Homo sapiens: one gene and its partners. The protein of the gene in region 4 purifies or fractionates together with the protein of the main gene of each other region. This does not show direct contact. Each region holds a gene or a part of one and is shown on either strand. Other genes may lie near its edges.

Region 1 (2,852 bases), about 180 Mb from region 4:
TCTCCAGTAGAAAAGTGAATACCCTCTTCAGCCTTCCCATAAAAATATAGATGACACTGGCTGAGCACCCTCATACATAACTTTGGGTCTGGCACTGTTCCAAGCTCTTCTCATGTATGAATCTATATCATCCTTCATAACAAGCCTATAAGATGGGTGTTATTTACATCTTATATACAAGAACGCTGAGATACACAGAGGGTAAGGAACTTGAACAACGTCACCCAGACAAAAGCAGCAGAGGAGGGATTTGATCCTAGACAGCTGGACTCTAGAGTCATGCTCCATGGCCTCTACCTGAAAAGCCATGTTACAACAGGGAGCTCATGTCCTCCCAAGATAGCACTGTCCAACTCTCACATAATGTTACCAGAGCCAGTTCTAGAACACAGCCCAATTTTCAATCCTGTGCTTGCCATTGCATCTCATGCAACAGTGTTCTTAGTAAAAGCTGTTCCATGAAGCTGAAATCAAACAAGCTCAAAATAAAAGATAGAGACAGACAAGCATACTTGAAAGAGAACATGTTTATTTACATCACTATTTCCTTTTTACAATGCCTCCACCTTTTGAATAATAAAATTTTCCAGGAAATCAGGTCATTTTAAATTATTAAGGTATTTTAACAAATACAATTTTCACCCTATGATTTTTATTTACATGAGTTTTCAAGAGTTTTAAATAGTTCTTTTGAAACTGCACAATATAACCAGAAGGCCTGACTCAGACCCTGCATCTTTTCCAAAAACTTTCAGTCTAGGAAATTATGTTTATAATCAAATCCTTGCACTTTGGATCTTTTCCGATGAGGATTTTATTAACACCTCTAAAATATGAACCTGCTTCATAAATGATCCATATTTTGGCAGCAAGCTGAACCTATTTGACACTTCTTGATAGTAAGCAAAGATATTTTTGATACCTTAATTAAACTGCTTTGATTAAAACTTTCTGGAAGTTTTCCGTATCAGTCATACAACTCCCTATGTTGTTGTGTATGTGTTCTGAGTACACACTGAATTTATGAGAATGATTTATTTCCGGTCTGGCCAGCTCTGAAAGAGACACATGGGGGATTCGGAACTTTATGGCACAGGCACTGGTGCATCTGCTCTCTTTGTCCAGTCACACTTGGGATGCTTAATTTTCCTGATATTATACATGCAAATCACTTACTTTTCATAGAATTTACCATTCATCAAATGACTTTCAACAATAACAATGGTCTGACATTCTTTCATGTCGTACTGAGATTTCAGATATTTATTAGAGAAACTATAAGACAGATTTTCCTAATATTTTTGAAGTATGAGTTCCTCTGAATAGTTGGTATAACATCCATTAAAAAATAGAAAAGGTTAACTTTTTACCATGATCAAAGCTAGAGTTCACAATGAAACACCTGCATAGCTCTGCCCAACATCTCTGTAACAACAGCCAAGGGCCGGTCTTGAACATCATGCAGCAGCAATAGAGGTATCATCCATGAGTCGACCCTGTGGCTTTAAAGTGGGAAAAACAAAGTGGGTTTACAAAATTATAATATAATAACAAAAGCTCTATTAACTGGAAGGATTTTTAAATTCTTGAAACTGTTTTACAAAAACAGAATAAATGAGTGTAAGCATCAAAATAAAAATGGTGATATGGTGATTCTCCTCCTTTCACCCCACCTCTTTCTTTCTTCACTTGCACCTGGGGATGGCCACGGCACAGGCTGGGAGCTGCCCTCTCCTGTAGCCATCACCAGCTGACTCTGCACTTCCACCCGAAGAATCCTCTTCTGTCAGTACTTCTCTCTCAACCCTGCGTTCCAGCAGCTACTGCCAGGCCATCTCCCACATGTGGAATGGAACCTTGTTTATCATTCCTACTTAACTGATAGTTTTATTCTCTCTCTCTTGCTCAGGGCCCTCCTGTGTCTCAAGCTTTAAGCAGGTCCAGAGCCTGAGCTGACAGGTAAGTTCCTTTTGGGGACTCAAGGTTGCCCAATCTCCTGTTTGAGAAAAAGTGTCTGCAGTGAACTCCAATGCATGCTGCAAGGATAAAAGTGGCAGATAAAAACAAAAACTGCCCTATCTCTAAGATCACTGATTGAAAGAATTTAAAACATCACGTCAGAAAAGTCAAGACTAAGAATGAATAAAAGGTATCGTAACTGTTTTTAGTTGTAAAATTTCTGGCAGGTTAACAACATCCCAGAGGGATAGCTAGTAGCTAAAAGAATACAATTCTTACAAATAATTTTATTTTATTATACAGATATACAATAGCAGACCTTTGTGGGGAAAGCAGGAGAAAGATGATCAGGAAATGAAACAGAAGAGTGTTCACAATCAAAAGTGATTTGCTATGCTTTAAGCAGAAAGATTCTGAGGCATTCCCGAGGCAGTGAAGACAGCACTCCTGCTTTCAGTTTGCTGCTGCTGTGGTTGTTCAGATGTATATAGCAGTGTGTGTGTACATACATACAGAAACATAGCTAAGTATAGCTTCCAGACATTCACGGCAGGAATGGAGTGAGTGAAATAGGTTCCCGATCCTTGATTCTTGACTGTTTTTTTAGTACTGATGGGAGCTGCTCAATTTTAGAAACAAAATCATGGCTCAAGCTAGTGAAATCCCTGCCAAATGTAGCTTTTACAAGCAAGAGCAAAAAATGAGTGCATCATACAATTAGAAAACCAAAGCCTTTTATTCAAAGGAAGAAAAGTATGGATTCATCCTTGCCTAGGACGTCACTGTCTGGTATGGCAGTCGCTAGTCACATTTAGCGATTGAGCACTTGAAATGTGGCAGTGTAACTAAGCAAATTTAATTTAAACTGAATCTCAATAGTCACATGTGGCTAG
Region 2 (7,055 bases), on a different chromosome or scaffold from region 4:
CCCATGCAATCAACAGTGCGTTCAAACAGAAGCTTGGATCTGCACACGTCTACGCATAGAGTGGGACCAGTTTCAGATTTAATTCTTCTAAAAAGAAGAATTCATCCATCCAGCCACCCGCTTACTCAGGAGCAAGCCTCGATCCAGCCTCAGGGCAGCCGGAGGAGCTGCACAGGAGCCTTTACTCATCAGCAGTGCAGCTGTTCTATCTAAAGGCTCAGTCGCAACACATACTACATCATTTCCGTACACTCTGGTTCTCTGTTGAGAAGTTTATGCTCAGGTCTACACAATGTTTACCTGCTGGGACTGCGTGTTCAGTGGTACTAGTTGCAGGTCGGTACTATCACCGGTATCTACAAGATAACTATCTGACAGCTGAAAGTCAAGTTCTGACAAATTCTGGACACAAACTTGAACATATTTCCTAAAGTGGAAAAACAAAAAGTATTATTTTGATATGTAAGAACTTTATTAAATATATCTTAGCTTTGTTAAGGAGACCCTCTCTGCCTGGGGAATCAAAAAAGCAACAAAGCAAAGTAAGCTAAGTTGTTGCATAAGTTTCCCTTCAGATTTCACACCGAAAAGTGCCAGAAAATAAACCTTTTTGGCCGGGCACGGTGGCTCACGCCTGTAATCCCAGCACTTTGGGAGGCCGAGGTGGGCAGATTATGAGGTCAGGAGATTGAGACCATCCTGGCCAACATGGTGAAACCCCATCTCTACTAAAAATATAAAAATTAGCCAGACGTGGTGGCACGTGTCTGTAATCCCAGCTGCTCGGGAGGCTGAGGCACGAGCATTGCTTGAACCTGGGAGGTGGAGGTTGCAGTGAGCTGAGATCACGCCACTGCACTCCAGCCTGGTGACAGGGCGAGACTCCATCTCAAAAAAATAACAAATAAAAATAAATAAAAAAAGTTTTTAAAGAGGCAAGTTCTGTGAGGCAATGGAAGAAAGAATATAGTTTCTGACCAGCCTTATTAAGTGATCATGGCTGGTCACCCTCACTGGCCTTTGGGGAGCCACGGGGAGACAGCAGCAGCCCTCCTCATTACAGGTGAAGACTCTCCATTGAGAGATGATAGGCGGGGCTTATATCCATTTCCATTACATGCAAAACTTTGAAAATATTAATAATAGTTACTATTTTTTGAGACAGAGTCTTGCTCTTGTCGCCCAGGCTGGGGTGCAATGGCACGATCTCAGCTCACTGCAACCTCTGCCTCCCAGGTTCAAGTGATTCTCCTGCCTCAGCCTCCCGAGTAGCTGGGATTACAGGCGCCCGCCACCATGCCCGGCTAATTTTTGTATTTTTAGTAGAGACGGGGTTTCACTATGTTGGTCAGGCTGGTCTTGAACTCCCGACCTCGTGATCCGCCTGCCTCGGCCTCCCAAAGTGCTGGGATTACAGGCATGAGCCACCACGCCCGGCTGAAAAATAATTTTTTAATAAGGTTCTTTTAGAGATTATTGATGTTTTTAACTATTAATATCTACAGTTCCCTTTGCTGTGATTTGAAGGGGAAAAAAGCTGCTAGTATAATGTTCCATTCTAAACATGGGTCTGACGTTTTTGTTTCCAAATTATCCACACATCATCAATGGATAAAAAGTTGTGGTGAGAGGCCAGGCTAGCATCCCGAGCCCATTGATCAACGCTAGCACCGTCACTAAGGTAGGACACCTGGACACCGTGGGCCTCCCGGTGCAGTCAACAGGAAGCACACAGCCCCGCCTGCCTCAAAGCAGAACTGGAGTCTACTCAAGCCTTTAGGGCAGCTGTTTTCCACTGGGGCACGTCCGCCCCACCCAGAGGACACTGGGCAGTGTCTACAGACATCTGTGGCTGCCACACCTGCAGGTGGGGAGTGCTACTGGCATCTCATGGGAGAGCCTGGGGTGCTGCTCAACACCCTACAGCACACAGGAAAGCCCCTACAACAGAGTTATCTAGCCCAAAATGTCACTAATGCTGAGCTTAAAAGCTCCTGTTCTAGAGGTTGCAGGCAATTGACAAGAAATACAGGGACAGGAGAACTAGTTAACAAATCCAGCCAGATCCAGAAAGGCGGGCGTCCAGAGGAAACCTGGCCTGCAAGTGAACAAGTCGATGGCTTGAAAACAGGGAAGAAAGGATGAACAGAGATCTAGTGGTCTGATGGAGATTTTGGACCCCAAGTCACACAAAGCAACCATAAAAGGTCATTTTCAGACAGTTGGGAAAACCTGAATATGAACTGGATGTCACAGGACACCAGGGAATTGTGGATTTTAAGACACAAACAATGGCCTTGTGGTCACATAAGAAGACATCCTTGGTCACCACGAAGGCCAGTTTTGAACATTAGGAACCTCCACTTAGAAGAGTCTGGGGAAAGAAGCCAGGGCCCGCACGCTACGCCTCCGTTACCGTGTTCCTGAGGACAGGAGGCTGTGTGTGGTCCTGAAGGGTACGCTGAAGGTCAGTGCGATGACTGTGGAGTAGATGGACCACGGGCAGTCAATCGACACCTGAGGAGGAAGCACAAAGACACTCTCAGACCACTCGCCGACGGACAGCACAGCCACCACCACTGCTGCCCAGACTCACCTGCAGTGCCCGCCCACGCCCTAGACATTTTATTATGGCTTCAACCACTCATTATCCAGGAAGCAAAGCCTTACCCAACACATACACAAACCAACGAGAAACAGGAAGCTATGCATACAGACAAGAGAAACGAACGCAGAACTGGCAAGACATGCACACATCACCAGAGTCACCTCAACGGCGGAAGAGCACAGCCGTCCTCTAAGCAGCAGACCCACCTGCTGCTCCCATACACGCAGGGCCGCGGAGCCATGCATGTTGCAATGTGCACAGGGTTTTGACAAAGTGCTTTCAGTCATGTATTTCCAGATGACATTAGCCAATCAGTAACTACTCCATAGTTAATGAATTATCTAAGCATTTAATCCATGTGAGGCTGAATATGTAACTGAAAACCAAATCAGTTTAGGGGCACAGTGAGGACAAAGCTATTACATCCCTTAAGGGCAGGAAGGAAGCAAGTCTCAAGCCTTATTCCCCACAGGGAAGAGGTGAATACCCCAGCACACAGCGTGCGTGCCGCCAGTGCCAGGGAAGAGAGGATAACACGGCACATAGCACAGGTGCCACCAGCGCCAGGGAAGAGAGGATAACACAGCACACAGCACAGGTGCCACCAGCGCCAGGGAAGAGAGGATAACACGGCACATAGCACAGGTGCCACCAGCGCCAGGGAAGAGAGGATAACACGGCACATAGCACAGGTGCCACCAGCGCCAGGGAAGAGCGGGGTAACACGGCACACAGCACAGGTGCCGCCAGTGCCAGGGAAAAGAGGATAACACGGCACACAGCACAGGTGCCGCCAGCGCCAGAGAAGAGTGGGATAACACGGCACACAGCACAGGTGCCGCCAGCGCCAGGGAAGAGAGGATAACACGGCACATAGCACAGGTGCCGCCAGTGTCAGGGAAGAGTGGGATAACATGGCACACAGCACAGGTGCCGCCAGCGCCAGGGAAGAGTGGGATAACACGGCACACAGCACAGGTGCCACCAGCGCCAGGGAAGAGCGGGATAACACGGCACATAGCACAGGTGCCACCAGTGCTGCGCGCTCCTGCTGAGCTAAGCGCCACCTTCGTGAATGGTGAACGTCTGTGTGAGTTAAGGGAAAGACACTTCCTCAGGTTCTTCAAAAGCTGAACATTACAACATTCGTCTTCAGGCGTGGACTTGTCTGGTGACTCCGTGCTTTGGAAAGACGGCATGCCTTGCCCTTTGCCCCCGCTGCTCTTGGGCGTATACTGCGGCCCCTGGGCTGTTTCAGGGCCCTCAGGATTGATTTCTGGGCTACGAGACTTGGGCACACCCTGAGTAACATGATGCAGCGACACATTCCATGAGCTGATATCCTGTGGCTCTGGGACCGAAATCACATCTTTCTCAAGTAACTGTCAGTAAGTACCAGCACCAAAGCCTAAAATGAGACAGCTCCTCCGTGGCTGAGCTTATGAGTTTCAGTGGACAGACACCGAGGCACACACGACACAGACCTCCTCTGGCCTCGTCACCGGTCTAATGGACATGACCCAAGTTTTACGCCCCTCATGCCTAAGCCGGCCCTAACCTCTTACAGCAAACTCCCTGGCCCCTGGAACTGAGAGGGAAAGGTAGAGCTGGCTTGTCTCTGCCCTTGCAAAAAATGCACCCCTTATCTAAGAAAGGGTGATTCACAGACAGACAGAACTGCTAAACACATGCCCAGGGCATCGGGAATCAGAAGGAGCCAGGCTAACAGCAGGCATCGCTACATCGCCTTTCCCAGCAGGCAGGCGGGCGGCGGACGCCCCACAAGCTAAGCTCCTCCACTGTCCCTACTCACTTTGTGGTCTGTGGTAACCATGCAGCGGCCAGTTCTCTGTTTGTCCTTATGCTTCCTGTGGGGCTCTGCCATCCCCAGCATGTCACTCTCCCCTCCGAGTGCTGGGGCTGAAGGTAAAGAGAGAACTTCCAGTTCAAATTCGATCACGTGGTACGCAGGCGCAACAGGCAGACTGATGCTCGTGACCTTGTCGGAGGACTGAATCCGGAGCGCGGCCTCAGAAGACTGTTCTACGAAGGACAGAAAAAGTCACTTCAAAGCTGTTCCCTCGGTTTCACTTGTCCTTTTCCTTACAGCAGGTGATGGCCCAGCAGTGAGGCCACTGCTCAACCTCTCCCGCTCCTGCGCACCTGGCAGGCAAACCCAAGAACAAGGCCCCTAGGACAGAGCAGCCCTGTGTGAAAGCCGGCAGGCAGGCGCCCAGACCCATCATTGATCTCAATCTGAAGAGAGGAAAAGGGCATTTCCCACGGGGCCCACCCAAGTCCTGTGTAGGTCCCTGCATGACTTTCTCCCGTTCCAGCTCATCCGCAGATCCACCCCCACCCCAGGGGAGCAGGGTCCTCCCCTTCCCCTTCCTCGTGGCTGGGAGGATGGGAGTGCTCAGGGCTCTCAACAGCACCTGCAAGGGCTGCTCTGCTTTTGCTTCTCGGGAGCAGGGCCAGCCCAAGGGGGACAGGGTCTGGCAGGCATCACCATGGAACGTGACCCCAGCCGTGACCCCCATCTCCTAATCCTCAGCCAGACAAGCACTGCTCGGCCACTCAGCGTGTGAACCACTCTCAGTTTATCACCTCAGATGGGACCCCAGCACAGGCATCAGGCCGCAGGGCTCCTATGGAACACGGACTCCAGACACTGTTGAGGGGCGCTCAGCAGGATGGCAGCAAGGCCAGGCTCACCCTCACACCCACACAGTGCAGGGCAAGGTGGGCATCCTCCTTGGGCCTGGGTGGGCGGCACCTCACCTCTCGTGTTGGAGTAGACCACAGCCCTGCTCTCCGCCTGGCACAGGATGAGCATGGCTTCGGCATTGCTAAGCTGCAGGCTGTCTCCATTCTTTATCGTATAATGGCCGGTAGTGACAGTGAACTTGACTCTCTGAGGAATGCCTGCCAGAAGGCTATCTAAAGGAAAAGAGATCGTGGCTCAGCACCGCTGCCAACCGGAAGACAGCATCTCAGGGCCCGCAATGGGGTGAAAGGGGCTCTATTTCTTTTACTATGAAAGATTTGCTCCTTTGGGATCTCCATGAATTCCTTCTACTTCCATTCCCTTCTGCCCTAACTTTTCATCTCAATGATGTGGACTACAGGGTTGAAGGAGAACCTTGCTGGGGAAAAAAGAATCCTGTGAGTCAAGGAGTCTTATACCCATCTTGGTTCAGCAAGTCAGGGATTATGATCATGACTACGTCTCTGAGGGTCACAAAATTTGCCTGCCCATTAGTAGTAGAAGAGAATCACATAATGAGGCTTAAGAAGAGACTGTAAAGAAAACTTGACTGTGCTGGTGCTGCTCAAATATTCAAAACCTTCTCTGGATTTTTCAGCTTCAGGCCACGGGCTTTTGGGTTAAGAACAGTCAGCAGTCAGGTGGCTCCCCCTCACTCCAAGACAGCAATGAGAGGCAGGAGTGAGCTGAGGCCTCTGAGAATCCTGCTGCAGGGAAGACAGAAGGCAGGCAAGATACCAGGACCGGGGGGAGAGTGGACAGAGACAGGGGACACTAGGCAGGAAGCAGGAGCCAGGCCATGAGCCTGGCACTGCAGCCGCTGGGCCATGGGGAGGGCAGGGCCTGCTGGCTGGTGCTTCGGCTCCCCTGCGGGAATCGAGTTCAGCTTCTCTACACAATGTTCCAATGGAAGAATCACTGGAGAGACTGACTGCTGTGTCCCACATCTGACAGCCTTTGCTGGTGGCCACACAAGAGGCACAAATGCAGAAAAATAGGGGGAATGGGGGAATAACAGAAAAATGCCCTTTGTGATTTTTTTCCACGTAGAAGAAACAGGCAAATAAATAAATCGTTGCTAGCCCGAACAAAGGAGACATTCACTCACTCTTGTTCAGCTGCCACATGTTCTTCAATCATTTGTTTATAGCAACTCCTTCCAATTTTAGAACTTATCAGAAAGGACAATAGCTTTGAATTTCTCAAATGCCATGCCAGACGGACAAGTTTAATCAACCCTTTCAAAGGAAAACTTTTTTTTTTTTTAAGAGATGGAGTTTTGTTCTGTCACCCACGCTGGAGAACAGTGGCGCAATCACAGCTCCCTGAGGCCTCAAACTCCTGGGCTCAGGAGGCTGAGGCAGGAGCCTCAGCTGGGGCTCCAGCCTGTAGCTAGGACTAGAGGCCGTGGCGCACGACTACACCCAGCTAATTTACTTCATTTTTTTATTTTGCAGAGATGGGGTTTTGTCATCCTGCCCCGACTGGCTTACCCATGCTGGTCTCAAAGCCTTGGCCTCCCAAAGTGCTGGGATCTGAGTATAGATCCTAACTAAATCTAGTGTTTAGCATTTGAAACGTACTTCTAAGCAGGAAATTATATACATATTTATGAAACCCTGTGGTAGACATTAGCTGCTTCTTGGCCTAATGTGACACTGTAAAATACACATGTAGTTT
Region 3 (6,487 bases), on a different chromosome or scaffold from region 4:
TGATTTTTGCTGAGCTCTTGTATAGAAAACCAACCTATGTTGCAATTGATAAGCGAGAATAATTTTAGTATGAATGCTGGTTGATATTTCTGTTTACATTAACGAGGAAGAGGAAGTGAGAAAACACATGTTGGATCTTCACTAGTTCATCAGTGATACGGGCAACTTCTTTGTTGAACTGGGTAAAACTTTTCAGATACTGCAGGAATATTTTCCTAAACTATTTGTGCTACTCGTTACAGCTACAAATATGCAACACTTTTAATATGCATCACTAACATTTTCTCCATCACTTTCTTAGGTCTAGCGTAGACAACAAAAATAAATAAATCAAGCCCTGGTGTGTAGCATTTGCTGGTTTTCCTGAGGTAAACATTCTACTATCATTGATTTCAAGCTACCAGCAAGTCACTGAATGTAGGGTTGGCAAGAGATGAGCAGAAACACACCATTGTGTAGTATTTCCAGGATACAGATAAAATAGACATAAATAATCCTGAGTAATATTCAGGAAGTAATTTTGAGTGCTTTATTACCTTTATTTTTAATATATTCAGTTGTAGGTTTATATAGTTTAATTTTTTTATTAGTGTCTGTTTAACAATCGGTTCAATTTAATATTCAGCTGAGTGGTTTAAATATGAGATACCACTGTGATTATGCCTCCTCATTCTTGTCTTTCCTCCTCAGACTTTTTATAAGCCCATGGCCCTAAACTCTCAAGAAGGAAATGAGTGTCCTTAGAATGTGACCTTCCTCTCCAACTTGTCCCACACCTGCTAAGACACAGAGTGGAAGGAGCTGAAAAGCCAGAGACCCACTTAAGATCCAGAAGCATAAGCAGCAGTTGCAGAGAGGCACACAGACTAGCCACCCATCTCTCAAGAAGAGTTGTTCCAAGTACAGGTTTGGAATCTTCAGTCTGAAAACGGGGTCTTTTGATCTCTCCCCACTTTGGTGCAGTCTGCTCCGATTAGTGCCGAGATTGAGACTGGAACAAACCATGGTAGCTGTCAATGGCACAAGGACCCCATCTGCTCCAGACTTGACTGACCCTGGCTCTTGTACTCCCTGCCACCCACTCCTACACCCTGTCTTCCCTCCTTCTCCAATGACAAGAGATATTCATTGAAACAACCTTGCTCCCATTTCTCTATCTGCAGCAGGGCTGAATTGAAATTTCTTATGTCCAAATGCCCATTCTCTGAATAAAAAAATATTTTGAAACCAGACTTTCTAATCAACAGATACTAATACGCTATACAGTGAATAGCATGTCTTTATTCTATTTACAGTATATTTGTTATAAATATAATACATTTTTGAAAAGCTTATTTTTAATTAACTTGAGATTTATATTTTAAACAGATCAACTCAATAGTTAACGTTATATAATAAAGAATATGGTAATTTTAATGACAAAAATCGTATTGTGAAATAGCGCACTCTATACTGAGATGAATGAGGGGAAAAAAGTCAAAACTCCTTTCAAAACTATATTCAAAGCATCAGAAAAAATTTTTTTTTCTTTTTACAAAGTTATGTATAAGTCATAGGGACCACCAAATACTGAAATATGAAGACTCTATGACCAAAGTTCAAAACTGATTTTAAGGAACTGTGTGAAGCAAGACAGGAAAATTTGTATTTAACACTCTATAGAACTTCACAGTAAAGCTGGAATTTAGAGACTAATGGCTTAACAGGAGTACTGCCAACAAGGCCTTTCCTTTCTCAGAATCATCTCCTAATATTCGTATACCATTGACAAGTTGTAACAGCAGACTTAGACTTTGTGTTTTCTTAAGATGGGGCTTAATAAGGTGCACAAATATGCTGATATCCTGTATTATGAGCATGTAAATTATTCTCAGGGTTTAAAGAAATACAGAAAAAGAATGTTAAGTATTCTCAGTCCAACGTGCTTTGCATCATCAACAAAATGACAAGTCAAAGTATTTTGCAGGGATCAGATATCAATCAACCTCCATAACAAGTTAGGTATATCAAATACTGCTGTAAAACCCATCCAGCAAAAACTGATTATTGTGGATTTCAGTACAAATTTCCAAGTTGTCACACATTACTGATGATGATCAGGGCAGGCATGGAATTCTGCTGACTTGTTTCAAACACTGTAACTTGGTCCGATAACTTGGCAAATACCCTAGGAGTTCCAAGGTTATAAACACCTGTATGAACAAAGCATGCTTTCAGCTGCAGACTGTGAATCTCCTGGCTTTTAAGTTGAAGTTTATACTGTGTTTGTCCAAGCCATGTGAATGATCCATGGATTTCCAGTGCTTCTGGACTAAGGGAGGAGGAAAATGTAAGTTGCAGGATTTTTTTCTTTTTAATTTTTTTCCCAAAGTCACATTAACATATCCCTTTCAGCTGGGCGCGGTGGCTCACGCCTGTAATCCCAGCACTTTGGGAGGCTGAGGCAGGTGGATCACCTGAGATCAGGAGTTCAAGACCAGCCTACCAACATAATGAAGCCCCGTCTCTACTAAAAATACAAAATTAGCCAGGTATGGTGGTGCACGCCTGTAATCCCAGCTACTCAGGAGGCTGAGGCAGGAGAGTCACTTGAACCTGGGAGGCGGAGGTTGCAGTGAGCTGAGATTGCACCACTGCACTCCAGCCCATGAGAGAGCAAGACTCCATCTCAAGAAGAAAACAAACATCCCTTTCATCTAACAATTCTATTTCTAAAAATTATTTTATGAAGCCAACTGTTTATTAATAATAGCAACATCATTACTATAACAGCTAACATTTATTATTTAATAGTTTCTATTCTCTAGGCACAATGCTAAAAGTGGATTATTTCATTTAATGCCCTAAGAGTTAGTATATGTTGGAACTTGATTTCAAACCTAAACTTTTAACTCCTTAGTTAGCCATATATAAGTGTCTGTACATGAATGCTTTTAATATTGAAACTGTTTATAATATTGAAAAATGGAAAACCCAGTACCCAATAAAGTATTAATAAATTTATGATACACAAAATCACATATATAGGTGTGTGTTTGGATTTCAGAGAACTGTCCCAGATCCTGTTTGGGGTGTTATACAAAAATATTAAGTATACGCTTTATAGTATTTTTCCAAAAATTCAAAAATTTCTGAATTCCCAAAAGCATTTGGCTCTAGGAGTATCTGATGTGGGACTGTGGATCTGGATTTTTTTTTGTTGTTAAGTACTATTTTATAATCAAGAAAAAAAAATCTTTAATATTTAAAGCCTCTGTAACACATCTGTAAGCCTTCTATATTACCAAACAAAAAACCAGGACAAGCTTGAGTAACTTTCTTATCCATGTTAGGTAATTATTTGCATAATTTCAAAATATTAAATTGCTCCCAAATCAAATAACCTTGCACTAAACAAATCTTTACCTTGTTGTTTTATGCCGAAGATCAACTATGACATCTACATCAGCCTTAGAACAATTGGAAAGTAAAAGAGTGACTGGTACTAAACAAAGGCTATGGAAGAAAAATAAACAAAAAAGTTATATATTTTTTTCTTCTTAAAAGCAATTTTCCTGAAAATAACACTTAAGACTATGTAACAGAGCATAAGCTCCTTAAAAACAATCAGATTCAAGAAGGAAAAAGCTCAAGTTCCAAAATCACTCAAGACAAATTATATTGTAAATAAAAAATATATTAATACAATGACAATATTAAATATCAGAATATATACATTCACAGAACTATTTTATTTTCATTTATTAATCTTCTAAAAACAACTAAAATGTTTCTAGATATTTCACAAAATGAAAAACAAAATCTCAACTTAGATCAATGAAGAAAAAGTAAACCATGAAAATGCCAACAACTAATACTGTTGTCTTTGTGCTTATTAAAAATTACTTAATTTTGAGAACTTGGCCTAGACTGACATTTGTTTTTCTATCAAATTTGCACAACATCATGTTTTGAAGAATATAAGAATGATTTCTATATAGTTATGAGGAAATCTCTTTCGAGTGGATACATTTTGCTCAGGTAGCCTAGTTTCTGATACCATAATTAATAAATTACTAAAGCATAGGAAAAAAGGCAGTGATAGAAGAGGACATGCGAATAGAGTGGTACAGATTTCAAATCAAGAATGCAAGAAATGAATATAACATGTACAAATGAAGCAGGGTTATATACTATTATCTACCTTTTACTCTATAAACACAAAGATAGTAAAGAAGAAAAAATAGTAACCGTATAAGTTCATACACATTAACTTTTAAATTCTGCTCAGATAATATATTTTATACTTTCAGAAACTTTATATCTTCTTACTGAGAAATACTTTTTAAACAATACCGCAAACGTCACAGGTTTCCCTAAACAAAAACTAAGATGATTTAAAATACATACCAGGTTGTACTGGTGCTATGCCCTAACTTCCCCCACAAACTTCTCATGTGGCAAGAAGGGCAACAAAGACTACTGGGTAGGTGTCCAGTCAGTCTGAAGCATCTCATTAAATTAAGTTCCAATTGCATAATTTGTAGCCCAAAGTAAAAATTCAGGAACTTATGCTATTCTGTTCCCATTTGATCCTCAAATGTCAAATTCTTTGTACCTTATACAAATGCTTCTAGTAGAAGAAGAAATGTGAACATGTGGATATCTCCTGGTCCAAAGTGAAACTCATCATCTTCATTCCAGTGAAGAGCACCCCCATCTACCCCAGCAAACTGTAAGTATCATACTGATTCCTCCTAACAGTCACTAACCTCCACTCCCAATGTTCTTCACAAATTCCTGCCAATTCTCTCACCCACACATCTCTGGAACCTGGTTACTTCACTGTATCTCATTTTCCTTACAAGTTCAAGTCTCATGTCTCATTTTACTGCAAGAGCCTCTTAATTAGCACCACAATGCAATCTATTCTTTAACCATGTTTCTCACACTTGAGTATGCACCAGAAATACCTGGCAAGCTTGTTTTAAAAAACCTGCTGGGCCTACTCTCAGAGATTCTGATTCCATAGGTCTGGAGTGTGGCCCAAACATTGCATTCCTAGGCTGGGCACGGTGGCTTGCGCTTGTAATCCCAGCATTTTGGGAGACCGAGGCGGGCGGATCACAAGGTCAGGAGATCAAGATCATCCTGGCTAACATGGTGAAACCCCGTCTTTACTAAAAATACAAAAAGTAGCCGGGCGTGGTGGCAGGTGCCTATAGTCCCAGTTACTCGGGAGGCTGAGGCAGAAGAATGGCATGAACCCAGGAGGTGGAGCTTGCAGTGAGCCGAGATCACACCACTGCACTCGAGCCTGGGTGACAGAGCAAGACTCCGTCTCAAAAAAAAAAAACAAAAAACAGAAATTACATTTCTAAGTTCCCAGATGATACTAATACTAATGCTCCTGGTCTGGGATCACATTTTGGTTGTTGTTGTTGTTGTTGTTGTTGTTTTTTATTCTTTGAGATGGAGTTTTGCTCTTTTTGCCCAGGCTGGAGTGCAGTGGCACGATCTTGGCTCACTGCACCCTCAGCTTCCCAGGTTCAAGCTATTCTGCCTCAGCCTCCCCAGTAGCTGGGATTACAAGCGCTCGCCACCACACCCGGCTAATTTTTTTTTATTTTTTAGTAGAGATGGGGTTTCACCATGTTGACTAGGCTGGTCTTGAACTCCTGACCTCAGGAGATCCGCCCGCCTTGGCCTCCCAAAGTGCTGGGATTACAGGTGTGTGCCACCAGGTCCAGTCTTGGGACCACATTTTGAAAACTGCTTTACACATTAGTTTTTCTAAAATGCTAATCTAATGAACCACAAACAGGGCTGAGAAATCAAAGTTCTGACAACTATTCTCCCACCACTGCATCCAGTGAAAAAGCTGGGCTCTAGAGTCAGACTGCTACCTGTACCTCAGTTTTCTCAACTGTAAACTGCAAAGAATAATAATTGATTCTACCTCTTGGGTTTGTTGTGATTAGGTAAAACATGTTAAGTGCTGAGAATGGTGACTAGCACATGTTCAAAAGCTCCATAAACATTATTTAATATAACAATTTATGCTCATGGCAGCTAAACATAGTATGATTTTATCTTTGTTATCTCCTGTCACCTATTCTTTCTTCTATTCTCATACCTCTACTGCTCTGTGTCCCACTACCATGACCAAACCTCCTACTGTCCCATTTCCTCACATTTCTACTTGTTTTCTGAAACCCCCATTAAATTAAGAATGCTTCCTTATATCCTCCATCTCTTCTCTTTGTGTTTCTACATCTATCTTTAACTGTATTGTCCTCTCAACAATAGATGCTGTATTTCTTCCAACATCTTCCATACCTCAGGGTGGCTGATGTAGTTCTTAATGATTTCTTTCTACTACCTCTCCTGTAAAGATGCCTCCACTTTTTCATCATAAACTACCTTAAGGTTTGTATTCTTTTTTCTGTTCCCATTCTAACAAACACAGTGACAGTAACTCAGTACAGCGAGAATTCTTTGGGGGAAA
Region 4 (7,000 bases):
CTGTGTCCTGAGCGATGTTAGAATTACCCTTCAGTGTGAGTGCAGGCCTGGCCCTGGCCCCAGCTGTTGCCTGAAAGTGACTAGGGGAGTGTTTTTCATGGAATCAGACTGGAATTCACTGTTCTTTCTTTGTTAGGAGAGATTCAAAATCTGAAAAATTCCAACTTTTACCCCCTAGGATCTTTACCTTATATAGTAAATCTCTGCCCCTCGACCTGGCCTGTCGTATCTGGGACGTGTTCTGTCGCGATGGGGAAGAGTTCCTGTTCCGCACGGCCCTGGGCATCCTGAAGCTGTTCGAGGACATCCTGACCAAGATGGACTTCATTCACATGGCCCAGTTCCTGACCCGGCTGCCCGAGGACCTGCCCGCCGAGGAGCTGTTTGCCTCCATCGCCACGATCCAGATGCAGAGCCGAAACAAGAAGTGGGCTCAGGTCAGCGGGCTTTGTGTTCTTGGCTTCCCACAGCGTAGCCGGCAAGTGGCGCGACTCAGGAAGGCCCCTACGTAAAGTGCTGTCTGAGGACGTAGCCCCTTTGATGGAGTCCCTGGGCTGGAACTGAGGGGGGCCGGGTGGAGACGTGGCTGTGCCACAGGGCGTCTCGGCGGGTCGCCTCCTCTTTGGGTTTCTGTCAGCTGGATGGGGTGTGGATAATGAAAGCCTTCCCACCTCCTCTGCAGTGGCATTGGGAGGGTCAGCACTTGTATCATTATAGTGCTCTTTACATGTTAGAAAGTACTTTGTAAGCCACGTACCCCCCTTTTTAAAAAAAATAATGCCAGAGACAGAAAGCAAAGTGGACCCACTTACTGAGCCCCGTGGCCATGCCCTGTGGCAGGCTTTTGTGTGTGTCCTTGAGAAGGAAGTGGGATTACCCCCCTCTTACAACAAAGGGAGGCCCAGAGAGGAGGGCGCGGGTCCCTCCTGGGTCTTCCCATGCGCTGCTGTGCCCTCTCTGGGCTGAGTGCCCCAAACAGTGGCGCGGATAGTCCGTATCCCTTGGTTTCCCTCCAGGCATCCCTCCTAGGTCCTGTCCCCAGTGGGATTGACCTGCATTTCCTGTTCCGAGTCTTTGTCATACTAAAAAGGAAAAAAAAACCAGTTTGGGTTCTTGATCCTGCATACACTCTGCATTGGTTTGAAGTCCTTGTTGATTGACGTCTATGAAGACTTTTCCTTTTCTGTACGTGCTACACCATGCCTGGGGGATTTCTTTGTTTTGAGAGAGGGTCTCGCTCTGTCATCCAGGCTGGAGTGCAGCCCCCGCCTCCCAGGCTCAGGTGACCATCCCACCTCAGCCCCCCGAAATGTCTGTTCTTGATTTAACTTTTTTTTTTTTTAATGGAAGATTTAAAATATTTACAAAACTAGAACAGCATAAAATAATGCACCCCCACACGCCTGCTCTGCAGTGTCAGTGACTGTGGAAGCGCAGCGGCTGTTGGAGCTGCCTCCCACCTCTCCCCTTCCCACCATATTGAAGCGAGTCCCAGGCACCGTGTCACCTGTTGGTGTTAGCGATCTCTGACTCATATGGGCTCTTTTAACGTAACTGCAATACCGTTACCACTCAGCTACTAACTCCTTCCTATCATCAGATATCCAGTTTTCAAATTCAGATGTCATAAATGGCTTTATAGTTGGTTGGAATCAAGATCTAAATAAAGTCCATGCCTTGTGATTGGTTGAAAGCTCTGTTAAGCCTCTGTAATATCTATGCCACGCCACTTCTCACTTTTTAGCCCTCTCTTGCTTGCCTTTATTTGTCAAAGAAAACAGGTCATTTAGGCTGGGCACAGTGGCTCACACCTGTAATCCCAGCACTTTGGGAGGCCAAGGTTGGGGGATCACTAGAGCCTAGGAGTTTGAGACCAGCCTGGGCAACATAGTGAGACCCCGTCTCTACAAAAAATACAAAAATTAGCTGGGCATGGTGACGTATATCTGTAGTTCCAGCTGCTAGGGAGGCTGAGATGGGAGGACCATTTGAGCCTGGGAGGTCAAGGCTGCACTGGGCTGTGATTGCGGCACTGTGCTTCAGCCTAGGCAACAGAGGAAGACCCTGTCTTAAAAAAACAAACAAACAAACAAAAAAAACAGGTTGGCCAGGTGCAGTGGCTCACGCCTGTAATCTCAACACTTTGAGAGGCTGAGGCAGGTGGATCACGAGGTCAGGAGTTCAAGACAAGCCTGGCCAAGATGGTGAAAACCCATCTCTACTAAAAATACAAAAATTAGCCGGGCACGTTGGCAGGCTCCTGCAATCCCAGCTACTCGGGAGGCTGAGGTAGGAGAATTGCTAGAACCTGGGTGGCAGAGGTTGCAGTGAGCCAAGATCATGCCACTGCACTCCAGCCTGGGCAATAGAGTGAGACTCCATCTCAAAAAAACCCCAAAAAAGCAGGTCATTTGTCCTGTAACATTTCCCACTGGGGGAGAGTTTTATGGCATATACATATGTCACCCCCCCCACACACATCACACACCTATACGTACACAATCACCCCACACACACAATCACCTCCACGCACACACATTGCACATCCATTCACCCCCCATCTCACACACCCACACAATCACCCCCCACACACCTACACATACACAGTCACCCCACACATAGACACGCACAGATCACCCCCACGCACACTCATTGCACACCCACAGTCACACCCCTACACCTCACACCCAGTCACCCCACACACACATCACATACACAATCACCACACACCACAATCACCCGACACGCACATCACACACCCACCCACGCATACAATTACCCTACACAGTCACATCCACACACAATCACCCCACACACATCACACACCCCCACAATCACCCCACACAATCACACACCCACACAAAATCACCCCCCACACATCACACAACCACACACAATCACCCCCCACACATCACACACCCACATACACAATCACCCCACACACATCACACATCCATACACAATCACCCCCTACACATATCACACACCCTTAAATACACAGTCACCCCACACAGGCATACCCACACACACACAGATCACCCCCATGCACACACATTGCACACCCAGTCACCCACAATCACACACATACACAATCACCCCACACAGTTACCCACACGCACAGATCACCCCCCACACACACATTGCCCACCCCCCCACACATAGATCACCACTTACACATCACCCCACACACACCCACACATACATGCACACATCACACACCTACACATTGCATACCCACACACACACCTACAGATCACCCCCCACATACACCTATCACAGCCCCACACACACGTCACCCCACACATCACACCCACACGTACACATTACACACCCACACACCTCACATGCACATACACACCCACGTACAGGTGCAGGTCAGTCCCTGCGCATCCACATACTGCACACCCACATACACAGGAAAGGATTAAACCCAGATCAGCCATTTTGATCCTTGCATATTTTAGGGACTAGGTAAAAACTATTGGTTAAAACTGGGTCAGATTATTTGACCGTAGGACATTGTTATTAATGGGATGGTGATAGGAGTTAGTCTGATGATGGGGGTGGGGGGCTTGGGCATCAGTGACGTGCTGTCAGTTTTTTGTTTGTTTTTTTTTTGAGACGGAGTCTCCACCCTGTTGCCCAGGCTGGAGTGCAGTGGCGCAATCTTGGCTCACTGCAACCTCTGCCTCCCGGGTTCAAGCGATTCTCTTGCCTCAGCCTCCCGAGTAGCTGGGATTACAGGCGCCCGCCTCCATGCCCAGCTAATTTTTGTATTTTTAGTAGAGACGGGGTTTCACCACGTTGACCAGGCTGGTCTCAAATTCCTGACCTCGCGATCCACCTACCTCAGCCTCCCAAAGTGCTGGGATTATAGGCGTGAGCCACCACACCTGGTCCAGGCATCAGTAACTTTTATACAGTTCAGGTCTCATGGGACTTGTGGTCCATGCACATTTCTCTCAAATCCTGTGCTTAAGGTTAAGACACTGGTGAGCTTTCTTTTTCTTTTTCCTTCTTTTTTTTTTTGAGACAGAGTCTCACTCTCATTGCCGAGACTGGAGTGCAGTGGTGCGATCACAGCTCACTGCAGCCTGAACCTCCGGGGCTCAAGCAATTCTTCCACCTCAATCTCCCAAGTAGCTGGGACTGCAGGCATGTGCCATGATACCCAGCCAATATTTGTTTGTTTTTGTAGAGATTTGTTTGCTTTTTTGTTGCTGAGGTTGGTCTCAAACTCCTGGGCCCAAGTGATCTTCCTCCCTTGGCCTCCCAAAGTGCTGGGATTGCAGGCATGAGCCACCACGCCCAGCCATGAGCTTTTTCAAAATGACTAAATGTTTATGTTGAGCCAGCAACCCCATTTACTTCAAGATGCAGGGGGACTTTATCTGCCATTATTCCTTTTCTGCACCTTAATTGAAACCAAAATGCTTTTACTTTTAAATTTGTGACTCAAAGTGGCATGGTTCCTGGCCCCAGGCAGGTAGCACTGTGTTACCAAGATTCTCTTGGTTTCACCCTTGGACTTTGAGCACGTCACTTCCGTACATGTCTGTTGTTCAGGCCCCTCATGTTGGGGCATTAGCCTTCCAGAGTTTGTCGCGTGGGCTAAGCGGGTGCTGGGCGCGAAGCGCTGGCAGAGTTCTCTGCTTGGCGTGGAGCCTGTTAGTGTTGCTGCAATTGCTAAGCAGCCACAATGGCGTGGAATATCTTTTAAAAGAAGGGTGTTGGCCTGGCATGGTGGCTCAAGCACTTTGGGAGGCCAAGGCGGGCGTATCATGAGGTCAGGAGTTCGAGACCATTCTGGCCAATACGGTGAAACCCTGTCTGTACTAAAAATACAAAAATTAGCCAGGCGTGGTGGCACACCTCTGTATTCCCAGCTACTCAGGAGGCTGAGGCAGAAGAATCTCTTGAACCCGGGGGTCAGAGATTACAGTGAGCCGAGATGGCGCCACTCCACTCCAGCCTGGGTGACAGAGCGAGACTCCATCTCAAAAAGAAGAAAAAGAAGGATGTTGACCAAGAACTGTGAGAACAGAGGAGGGAGCAGGCTCTGGGTGAGCTCAGGAAGGCAGGCAAGAGGAACCAGTGCCTTGAGGCCTTCTCAGGTGGCAGGCTTCCTGGTGGAGGAGGAACAGGGTGGCAGGAGTGCAGCGGGATGGGCACAGGGCTTATTAGCATCCTAGCGTTCAGGCCTGGGCTTCCTGGGTGGCCACTGCAGGACCCCAGTGAGGCCCCCAGCTGTGCTTTGACGTGGATTCTGTGGCCGGCTGGAAGGAGTGCAGCTAGCTCACCAGGCCAGAGAGGGCACGGGCAGGTGTCCATGTTGGAAAGACCACGAAGGACGTAGGAGTGGAAGACCCTGGAGGGTTGGAGGCAGTGGAAGTGGGGAGCCGGGGGACCCTGTTAGGAGGCTACTGCTGTCTCTGCTTCGCTGCTGTCAGGATCTGTGTGCGTGGTCACTTAACCTCAGCTGTCTTCCCTGTGACTTCTAGGTACTGACTGCATTGCAGAAAGACAGCCGGGAAATGGAGAAGGGAAGTCCGTCCCTCCGACACTGAGGCTGCAGCGGGAATTCGCACTCGGCACCAATCAGAGCCCCATGCCGCGGCCCCTCTGTTGTTTCAGACTGACACCCGGGCAGCCGAGAAGAACAGACGCTCTTTAAGTTTGATTCCTAACACTGGAGTTGGCCTTAAACAAAACAAACACAAAAACTTTTAAAGAATTAAACCAAGGCTTAGCCTTAAGCAGCTCAGTGGAAGGATGAGCTGCTGCGGACCACAGCCAGCCACTGCATCTGCTGCACAGTTGAACGATGGGCAGTGGCTCACCCCCACTCCTTTATTTCAGCAAAAGCTAATTAAATTGTAATGTTTCTATGTCAACTACTGGGAAGTATGTTACAGTCTTAGCCAGGATGCATGAGAGATGTTATTTGGGAGACTTGAGATGCTTTGGCTGATATTTACATGTTTTCGATAAGAAAGGGATCGCTGATTGAGTTATTGAGATAGTTTTTCCAGAGCTGGAGGTCACGTTTCTAAAACTCACCTACGAAAGATAGCATTAAAGGAACAGGGGCTCTCTGAGGATGGCCACTGATGTGTGTTTGTGGATACCTGGGCATCGACCCAGCCTGCAGGTGAGCTCTGGGCCATGTTGCCTTGACACAGTCACAGTGTAGAGGCTGCAGGTGCACACGTGGGCTCCAGTGGGACTGCGCTCTGGGAGACTGCTCCCTGGCATCGGTCCTGCGGAGGTGGAAAGTTCGAGAGGAGGAGCTATTTGCGAGGAAGCCCTGTGGCAATAGAGATAGGCTTAAAAGCGGAGAGAACACAGAGTGGAATCAGCCCCCTGTAAGTAAAAGGGTAGAGAAAGAGATGTGTGGCTGGGCCCTCTCCCACCTGCCTGTTCAGTGGAGGCCAGGGCAGCAGCCCAGAACAGCACATGTGGGGGAGGTGGCCCCTTGTGCCAGCAGTGGCTCCTCTCTGCCTTTGAGCCCTGCACAGCTGGACCCATCCTAAGTGCCAGTGAGTCCCTCACACATTTGACTTTAGAACGTGTGCTTCATGACCCGTTGTACAGACGGAGGAGCGAGCAACACACGTCTAACAGCCTAGACAATCTCGTCAGATGCTCATACTGGACCATCAGCCTCCCCATTTTAGCTGACTTTCCCAGGGTCGTTGGCAAATTTTTTGTTCTGTCTTTTCCTTGACTAATTGTAGAACTTTGTGTGAGGACTTTGGTTATCCAAAATCACAGAAATGAACCGTTTTGCAGCTGCGCAGTCTAAAGGGCAGGCCAGTGTCTGGAAGCAGGGCCCACGTGGCGGTCCGCTGGCAGGCTGGTCCTGGGGAGCATTCTGCGGACCCGGTCACGGGCTTGGTTAGTCATGCGTACATGTGTGCCTTGGGGTGCTCTGCACTCCACGGCCCTTCTCAGCCACACTTCCCACCCCAGGGGGTGCCCCCAGGCTGATCTCATTTCT

The links.
Region 1: the proteins of TBC1D14 (region 4) and TRAPPC11 purify together in Homo sapiens (affinity purification with mass spectrometry; 2 studies listed by BioGRID and IntAct, with this or other methods). This does not show direct contact.
Region 2: the proteins of TBC1D14 (region 4) and TRAPPC10 purify together in Homo sapiens (affinity purification with mass spectrometry; 2 studies listed by BioGRID and IntAct, with this or other methods). This does not show direct contact.
Region 3: the proteins of TBC1D14 (region 4) and TRAPPC8 purify together in Homo sapiens (affinity purification with mass spectrometry; 2 studies listed by BioGRID and IntAct, with this or other methods). This does not show direct contact.

What each region holds. Positions count from the first base shown.
Region 1 is NC_000004.12:183,711,250-183,714,101, reverse strand, and holds the end of TRAPPC11 (trafficking protein particle complex subunit 11), read right to left. Parts: intron 1,503-2,852; coding exon 1,458-1,502; 3' UTR 513-1,457; downstream 1-512. UniProt on the Homo sapiens protein: Involved in endoplasmic reticulum to Golgi apparatus trafficking at a very early stage.
Region 2 is NC_000021.9:44,085,295-44,092,349, reverse strand, and holds part of TRAPPC10 (trafficking protein particle complex subunit 10), read right to left. Parts: intron 5,549-7,055; coding exon 5,390-5,548; intron 4,652-5,389; coding exon 4,422-4,651; intron 2,518-4,421; coding exon 2,417-2,517; intron 428-2,416; coding exon 301-427; intron 1-300. UniProt on the Homo sapiens protein: Specific subunit of the TRAPP (transport protein particle) II complex, a highly conserved vesicle tethering complex that functions in late Golgi trafficking as a membrane tether.
Region 3 is NC_000018.10:31,828,679-31,835,165, forward strand, and holds the end of TRAPPC8 (trafficking protein particle complex subunit 8), read right to left. Parts: exon of another isoform or gene 3,634-6,487; intron 3,496-3,633; coding exon 3,406-3,495; intron 2,312-3,405; coding exon 2,077-2,311; 3' UTR 519-2,076; downstream 1-518. UniProt on the Homo sapiens protein: Plays a role in endoplasmic reticulum to Golgi apparatus trafficking at a very early stage. Maintains together with TBC1D14 the cycling pool of ATG9 required for initiation of autophagy. Involved in collagen secretion.
Region 4 is NC_000004.12:7,024,826-7,031,825, forward strand, and holds part of TBC1D14 (TBC1 domain family member 14), read left to right. Parts: intron 1-178; coding exon 179-437; intron 438-5,501; coding exon 5,502-5,567; 3' UTR 5,568-7,000. UniProt on the Homo sapiens protein: Plays a role in the regulation of starvation-induced autophagosome formation.